Linked DNA regions of Homo sapiens: region 1 is linked to region 2. A link means that fine-mapping ties the variant in region 2 to the expression of a gene that starts in the linked region. Tissue or cell type: whole blood. Region 2 holds a variant in brackets; the other region holds the start of a gene. All regions are shown on one strand. Distances are from middle to middle.

What was found. PIP is the estimated chance that this variant, and not a neighbour inherited with it, causes the effect.
Region 1: CMTR2 starts here. The variant in region 2 is fine-mapped to the expression of CMTR2 in whole blood (TOPMed, PIP above 0.99).

The regions. Positions count from the first base shown.
Region 1 is chr16:71,287,828-71,292,067 of GRCh38, reverse strand. It overlaps CMTR2 (cap methyltransferase 2), which reads left to right and starts at 2,666. Exons shown (of 3, transcript NM_018348.6): 1 at 2,666-2,932; 2 at 3,131-3,190. LOC102723786 (a long non-coding RNA gene) reads right to left here and starts at 3,268. Exons shown (of 4, transcript XR_933707.3): 1 at 3,113-3,268. RefSeq lists silencers at 2,394-2,463, 2,544-2,913.
Region 2 is chr16:71,244,300-71,248,539 of GRCh38, reverse strand. No RefSeq gene overlaps it. Among named protein-coding and RNA genes, the nearest start is that of HYDIN, 16 kb to the right of the region's middle. The variant A/G (reference allele first, on the strand shown) is at 2,457.

The DNA.
Region 1 (4,240 bases), 44 kb before region 2:
CCATCCCTTTTCTGCAAATCTACATTACCTGTCCTCTTGCCTGTTTTTTCACTCATTATTTTCCTGAGCTAGGCTGGCACTCCCCTTCCCCACGTAACTTCACCCTTAAAAGAACAGAAATTAAAGTTTCTTTTTCCCTAGTCTTTTCCTATATTTTTCCTACTAACTTCATTCTTTAGACTCCTACAACACTTAACTTGTACCACACAATATAGCACTTACTTGTATAAATGCTATTCACTTTGCAATAAATCCCTGTACTTTATTATTATTTTGAGACAGGGTCTCACTCTGTTGTACTGGCTAGAGTGCAGTGGTGTGATCTCAGCTCACTGCATCCTCAACCTCCTGGGCTCAGGTGATCCACCTCAGCCTCCCTTGTAGCTGAGATTACAGGTGCACACCACCATGCCAGGTTAATTTTTTGTTTTTCAGTAGAGACGGGGTTTCACTATGTTGCCTAGGCTGGTCTCAAACTCCTGGACTCAAGCAGTCTGCCCGCCTTGGCCTCCCAGAATGCTGGGATTACAGGCATAAGCCACCACACCCAGCCCGTGCTTTCTTTTTTTTTTTTTTTTTTTTTTTTTGTGAGACGGAGTCTCGCTCTGTCACCCAGGCTGGAGTGCAGTGGTGCAATCTCGGTTCACTGCAAGTTCCACCTCCTGGGTTCATGCCATCCTCCTGCCTCAGCCTCCCTAGAGCTGGGACTACAGGCTCTAAATATTTTTAGTTTTAATATAGTTCAATTTATACATTTTTCCTTTATGATTAGTATTTTGTGTCCTGTTATAAACTTTTTGACTACTTCAAGGTTGCAAAGATGTTCTCTTATGTTTTCTTATTAACTTTTAAAATACAGACTGACAATCCAAATGAAATGTATTTTTGTTTATGATGTAAGGAGGGTCCAAATACAATTTTTTTTGCATGGAGAGACACAAATGACCTACCACTATTTTGTGAAAATATAATCTTTTCTCCATTGGTCCATGTTCTGGAAGACTTGTAAAAAATGAATTTTACATTTATGTCTATATATCTATTTACATAAATGGTTAAAAACTCTACACATAATTCTAATATTCTTCTATTTTCATGCAATACTGTTGACACATACAGCCTATTAATGGCTGCATATAATGCATATATGTGCATTATATAGATGTACTGTAATAATTTAATTAATTCTCTTAAAGTAGACATTTAGAGTATTTCCATTTGGCTATGTTATTGAGATGCTGAAATGAACATTTTGTCCAAAGTGAGTGCCAGCTGTTTAATTATCTCCTAAGGATAAACTGCGAGGAGGAGGAATTGCTGGGTTAAAATGCATGTCCTCTTTTTTTCCCGAGACGGAGTCTCGCACTGTCGCCCGGGCTGGTGTGCAGTGGTGAGATCTCGGCTCGCTCCAACCTCCGCCTCCCGGGTTCAAGCGATTCTCCTGCCTCAGCCTCCCAAGTAGCTAGGATTACAGGCGCCCGCCACCACGCCTGGCTAATTTTTTGCATTATTAGTAGAGACGGGGTTTCACTATGTTGGTCAGGCTGGTCTCGGACTCTTGACCTCGTGATCCGCTCGCCTCGGCCTCTCAAAATGCTGGGATTACAGGCGTGAGCCACTGCGCCCAGCCAAAGTGCATGTCTCTTTTCAACGTTTGCCTTCTGGGCTAGGCGGCTTGGCTCATGCCTGTAATCCCAGCACTTTGGGTGGCCGAGACCAACGGATCGCTTGAGTCCAGGAGTTCCAGACCAGCCTAAGATAGGGAGATGCCATCTCTCTAGGAGGATCGCGTGAGCCCGGGGAAGTTGAGGCTGCAGTGAGCCGAGATCGAGCCACTGCACACCAGCCTGGGTGAGGGTAAGACCTTGTTTCAGTAAACAAACAAATAAATAAGTTTGCCTTCCGTAAGGTTTCTAATAACGTTTTTCTTCCATCCACAGATGTAAACCTGTTTCCCCATAGTCACACCAACAGTGGTCATTACCAAGGTTTTACATCTTTGCTAAACCGAGTAAAAAGAAAACTTGCTGTTTTCATTTCCATTCTTGTCTAATAATAGTTTAAACAGTTTTGTATATCCTTAGTGGCTATTTGTTTGACTTTTTTGTTTTTTGGGAGGCCTGTTCTAATATTTGCTCATTTTCCTTCTGGGGTTGTTGGCCTTTTTCTTATTGGCTTATTAAGCAACATAATTAATATATATTATGTCATGTATATATAAACAATCTTATCTTGCAGTTCCCTAGTTTGGCTTTTAACCTATCGTCTTTTGAGCTGCAGTTTCAACCCAGTCTGTACAGGAAGTAACAACTGTCCAGAAGAGTCTGAAAGCCCTTGGGGCCAGCAGCCAGTGAGCGGAACCAGCACGTCCTGACAGACAGGTTTGCCCCGTCCCTTCCCTCCCTCCCCCTCCCCCTCCCCTTCGCCTCCCTGTCCCTCTCCCTTTCACCCCTCTTCGGGACGGAGCCAAAGAATGCTCCGCCTGCGCGCGCCGCTTCCGTTGCCATAGTGGCCGGGGGCGGGAGGCTGGCGCCTCCCAGCTTCTGTACTCCGCGAAGCAAAACCTAGGGAGCTGAGGCCTAGGCGAGGCGAGAGTCGCCGGCGTGCGTAACGTTGGCGCACGTGACTCCGGCCCGGCCTACAGGGCGCGTGCGCAGTGGGACTTGAGTGCCTCCTGGTCCCTGTCTGCCGGCATTCGCGGCTGCGGGGCCCGGAGGTGGGACTGGCTTCCCGGTGCCGCGAGGGCGGGTCCGGACAGCCTTCCCCCCAGTCCGGCGCACCATCTCCCTGCCTTGTGGCTGGAGGCGCCGCGGACCCAAAGGGAGGGACCATCCCGGGAAGCAGCCCCGAGAGCGGAAGTGCAGAATGGCTTCCTCGAGAGAGTAAAGTGCAGCCTCTCCAGACACTGGGGCCCCAGTGGGCGTGGGCGAAGGTAATCCAGGCCTGGGTACGATTCCGGGCCCTCCTTCGACTTCCCAGCGGGTGAGCCAGGGGCTGGGACTGAGTTTCCTCCAGGTCAGGGACCGGGCCTCTGGAGTGGGGTTTGGGACTTACTTCACTAGATGAAATGAGATATGGGGTGCCCGGCCCAAAGTCAGCCCTGGATACTCACTGGCCGTTGTTTTCACAGTTGCTGGTAGGAGGAGTTGGCGGAAGCACTTGGAACTCCTTTATAAGTGTCAGCTGTGAGGTAAAAACTGTTGATGAGATCTTGTGGGTTTTGTTTTGGGTTCACTAATTTGGGCGGGGGCTACATAACTGCCTACTTGAGTTTGCAATATGAGAATGGTAATAGCGACCCACTTAGCAGAATTATGATGTCACAAAGCTCAAAGGACTGTTTAATGAAAGGCTCAGAGGATCATATACTGGAAAATTTTTCCACACACGCTGTAAGCCACATGCTTTTTTTTTTTTTTTTAAGTCATGCATTTAAGTGCTGGAGTGAAGTTGAGGTGCACTATTAATGACTCATATTCAGAACCTGAAGAGAGAGATCCCTTTTGTGCTAAGTATGATATCCACTCATTTATTCAGTAATACTGAGTGCTTACTGTGTACCAGGCAATGTCCAACTTCTTGGAATGGTCTATGTGTAAACAAAACAAAGATCTCTGTCCTGTGGAGCTTACATTCTAGTTTGGGGAAGACAAATAATAAACAGTAAACAAAAAGAAGGAAGTTATAGGTTGGAAGTACATGAGTACCATAGGAAAAAAATACAGCGAGGTAAGAGGCATGGGGAATGCAAGATGCAATCTTAGGTAGGCTTCACTGAGAAAATGACATTTGAGCAAATATTGGAAGGAGGTGAAGGAGTTAGCTGTGCTGACAGCTGGGGAAAGAGCATTCCAGGCAGAGGGACCACCAATGCAGAAAGACTTTTGTCTTGGAATGTGCTTGGTGTCTTCAGTGAACAGCAGAAAGGCCTGTTTGGCTGGAGTAGTGAGTAAGGGAGTAGTAATAAAAATTAGGTGGCAACACAGCAAAAGTATAGTCAGAACGGTGGAGTGTCTGAATCACTTAAGTTGTCCTCATGTGAAGGTAATTTCCTATTAGCTTAGGTAAGGTTTCACAGCTTAACTACAGCCGTTAATTAGTATGTGAAGTTAATGATTAAAATTAGACTTTTTCCGAAATAGAGTATAGATGAGATCTAAACATGGCTGTAGTTTCCAGCAAGCACAATGCGAATTAAGACAGAGGAGCTTGTTGAAAAAAACTTTTATATGCCCTTATT
Region 2 (4,240 bases):
TCCTCTCCAGCCTTAATTATGACAGTAGCCTCCTACCTGGTCTCCCTGATTTCAGCCCTTCTTCTCCCTAACAGACCTTTCTCACAGCTCCCAGGTTGTGAATCCCTTGCCGGATGCTCCAGCTGCCACTTACCCAAGCACATGATGCTGTTGAATGTCGTTGTGTTTTGCAAATGTTGAATCATCTGCCTACAGTACCTTTCCCACTCAACGTGGCAAGAACCTACTTATTTTTGGAGGCCCAGTTCACAAGCTTTTTCTTTGGTGTTGCCTTCTCTCACCACCCTCCTGGGTAGAGTTCATTGTTCCTGTCTTAGCACTTCCAAAACACTCTTTTTCTTTTTAACACAGAACATCCTGGCTCTAGCAATGTACTGTAATTATTCGCCATCCTGTCTGTAGAGTAGACTGTGAGCTCCTTATGGGCAGCAGACATGGCGCATTCACACATTTATCCTCATATCCCTAATATCTAACAGTACCCAGCTTGCCCAGGAGGTGAGTGTTTGCTGGATGAAATCCAAAGGCCCAGCAATCACACGCCCACCCAGCCACTCACCCCCTCCCCCTGCCACGCACACAGGGTGCAGTGGCTCATGCCTGTCTGTAATCCCAACACTTTGGGAGGCTAAGGCAGGAAGATTGCTTGAGCCCCAGGGTTTGAGACCAGCCTGGGCAACATAGTGAGACCTCATCTACACACACACACACACACACACACACACACATACACACAGAGAACAAACAAGCAAACAAACTCAAAGGCACAGTTTTGAAGTATGAATTCATAGTACCTTTGCAGCTCCAACTCGGCCATTGAAAAAAACATGTCCTTCTCAGGCTGGCTTTCCCCTCCACAGTCACATGACTACGTCACTCATACATGCCCCTTCTGGCCATTTCAACATCAGTACAAGAAACTGTAGCTTTTACGCAAGGCAACGAGTTGCTTTCGGCCATCTCAGCTTTCTCATCCAGGTAGGTGGTCGTTATCAGTGATGTGGTCTAATCTGTAATGGAGTAATTGCACATGGGGAACAAGAGCTTATTTAATCGGTGTCCCCCAACTCCCATGATGGGTTACTGATATCAAAAGGTGTTTTTTGTTTGTTTGTTTGTTTTTAGATGGAGTCTTGCTCTGTACCCCAGGCTGGAGTGCAGAGGCGCGATCTTGGCTCACTGCAACCTCCGCCTCCTGGGTTCAAGCAATTCTCTGCCTCAGCCTCCCGAATAGCTGGGATTACAGGCGCATACCACCATGCCCAGCTAATTTTTGTATTTTTAGTAGAGACAGGGTTTCACCATCTTGGCCAGGCTGGTCTTGAACTCCTGACCTCGTGATCCACCCACTTCGGCCTCCCAAAGTGCTGGGATTACAGGCATGAGCCACCACGCCCGGCCACAAAAGTTTTTAAAATGGCTGGGAATGGGGGCTCACATGTATAATCCCAGCAGTCTGGGAGGACAAGGCAGGAGGACCAGTTGAGGCCAACCCGGGAAACACAGTGAGACCACATCGCCACAGAAAAATGTTAAAATTATTCAGACGTGGTGGCATGCACCTGTAGTCCCAGCAACTCAGGAGGCCGAGGCGGGAGGATGACTTGTCCCTGGGAGATCAAGGCTGCAGTGAGCTGTGATGGTGCCACTGCACTCCAGCCTGGGCAACAGAGCAAGACTTTGTCCCCAAAAAGAAAAAAATATCAACTAACCAAACAAACAAAACTTTAGTAAGCAAGCCTCCCACCCCTCTTTATAAGGGGGTTTTTACAGAGTTCTCATAGGTTCTCCCCAAACCCCACTCTCCAGTTTCTCCTAGTATTAACATTTTACATTACTATGATACATTTGTTGCAATTAATGAACCAATACTGATGCATTATTATTAATTAAAGTTTACAATGTATTCAGATTTCCTTAGTTTTTACTTAATATCTGACCTTCTCTATTCAAGGATCCCCTCCAGGGTCCCACATTGCATTCAGCCATCCTGTCCCCTTTGGCTCCTCTCTCATCTGACAGTTTCTCAGACTTTTCTTGCTGACCTTGACAATTTTAAGGGGTTCTGGTCAAGGGTATTATAGGGTGCCCCTCTATTGGACTGTTTCTGTTGTTTTTCACATAATTAAACTGGGGTTATGGGTTTGGGGGAGGAAGATCATAGAGGTAAAGTAGTATTGTCATCCCATCATATCAAAGGAGTAAGTAAATTGTTTAAAAAGTGAGAGTATGATCGTTTTTCCCTCTTCCTCAAACCTGTGTTTCCTCCTATAGTTGCTGTTTCTATTAATGGCCTCATCACACACACAGTCATGAAGGCTAGAAATTGCATCTACTCTTTCTTCTCCATCCTCCATCCACCTAGTCAATTTCTAAGAAGCCATTGCCCCAGAGCTTCCATATTCCCCCCTTCTCTTATCCATACTGCCTCTGGTTAACCCCGTATTATTTTTTCC[A/G]TAAATGATTACCATAGCCCCAACTGGTTTGCCAGGTTCCACTTCCCTACCTCTCCATTTTATTCTTCTTAGTAGTTTCAACTTACTAGTGGTTTAATACCAACTCCATCTTCATAAATCTTAGAATGGTTTTCTGTCACATACAGAATAATGTTCCAACTTCTCAGTATGGAATTCAACCTCTTCAGATGCTAGCTCCAGATGACTTTGTGGTAAACACTAGTTCCCTTAATCTATAATTAATGGGCTATAGGCATTTAATTAGCTGAAAAAGAAGTTGGCATTTTCTTAAATTGTTTTCTCCAGAAGAGTTAATGAAACTATGTGTATATTTGTGTGTGTGCATACATGCACATGCGTGTACAATGTGTAGACCTCACTGGGGATGCATATCTCTCTCCAGGTACCCATGGCCCAAAGGGTGGTGAACACACCCTGCCCACTTGCTGCATCGTTTGTATCAAGTTTAGAAAAGCTGAGAAGATGGTAAGGAGAAAATATACTTGCCCAGAAGTGTGTGTGTGGATGTTCAACAAGATCCCAACTCATTTTTTCTTTTTTAGTGGCTTAAAACAAGAGCACCTTTTATCTCCTGGTTGCTGTGGGTCAGGAATCCCCTGCACAGCGCGGCTGGTTCCCCTGGCTGAGGGCCATTCACAAGATCCTTCATTGAGGTATTGACTTCTCCATTCATTTTTGCACTTCAATCACAAACACTTCTTAAAATTAATTGGCCAAACCTCAGCTTCTTGAAACTTATATAATGCAGAGAGCCTCTGTCACATTCTGGGAATGGCATTTAAATGCAAATTGAATTCCTTCTTTCATGGGATAGCCAGTTGTCTATGTCACAGGATGTAAAAATAATTCATCATGCTTGATTGTGTAATACGGCTGTCCTATATTATACTTTAATGACAAAATTAATTGGCTTTCAGATTCCATCTGTCGCTATTCACATAAATCCACAATCTTCGTTATTAAAATTTAAAAGTGCATGAGGAATTTGTGAAATTCTCATAGGCAGCCTGCTGGAGAACGTGGGAACAGTCTAGACCAGGGACCCCTTTTGTTATACGCTACCCAACAATAGATGAAGAGAAGGGCTGACCCAGGTGGGGAAACCAGAGTGGAGAGAATAGGAGCCATGGGTCCAAGAGCACTCATAGGCAAGAGCTTGGATCAGTTACTGGATTAATTAATCAGGAAGATGAATGCTGTCTTTACATATTTATGAAGACTGAGCTCTTACCAGCTCAATGAAGCTGTGCTATGGGAAAAGGCAGAGACTGTGCAGAAATAGTCACCACTGATTTGGAAACTGTTTCATTTCCTGAGCTAATAACCAAACTCATTCCTCAGAGAGGAACAAAAACTGTTATTCTGGGGTGGGAAAACATCTATGGATCATCTGATACAAGCAGCAGCTGTAACCAAACCACTGGTATTGTCACCCTCTTTGGGAGTCCCATTTATTCATGGTAGAGAAGGTTTCAGTCTTCCATGGCTCTTGATAACTCTGGCAGTTACAGTTGCCAGTAGCGTAAGTTAAGACTGTTTATTAAGGGTTTTGTGGCAGGGTGCAGACATTGATATAGACCAAATTGGTCAGAAAGACGAAGAACACACAGAAAAACATGGCCTGTATTCCACTTTATGTGGATTTAGGTTTGTGTCCTCATCTTTACCTCGGCTCTCAAGAGGTATGCATGAGCATGGGTGTGCGTGCGCGTGCACACACACACACACACATCAGCCACTGTGTTCTTCCACTAGACTTCAAT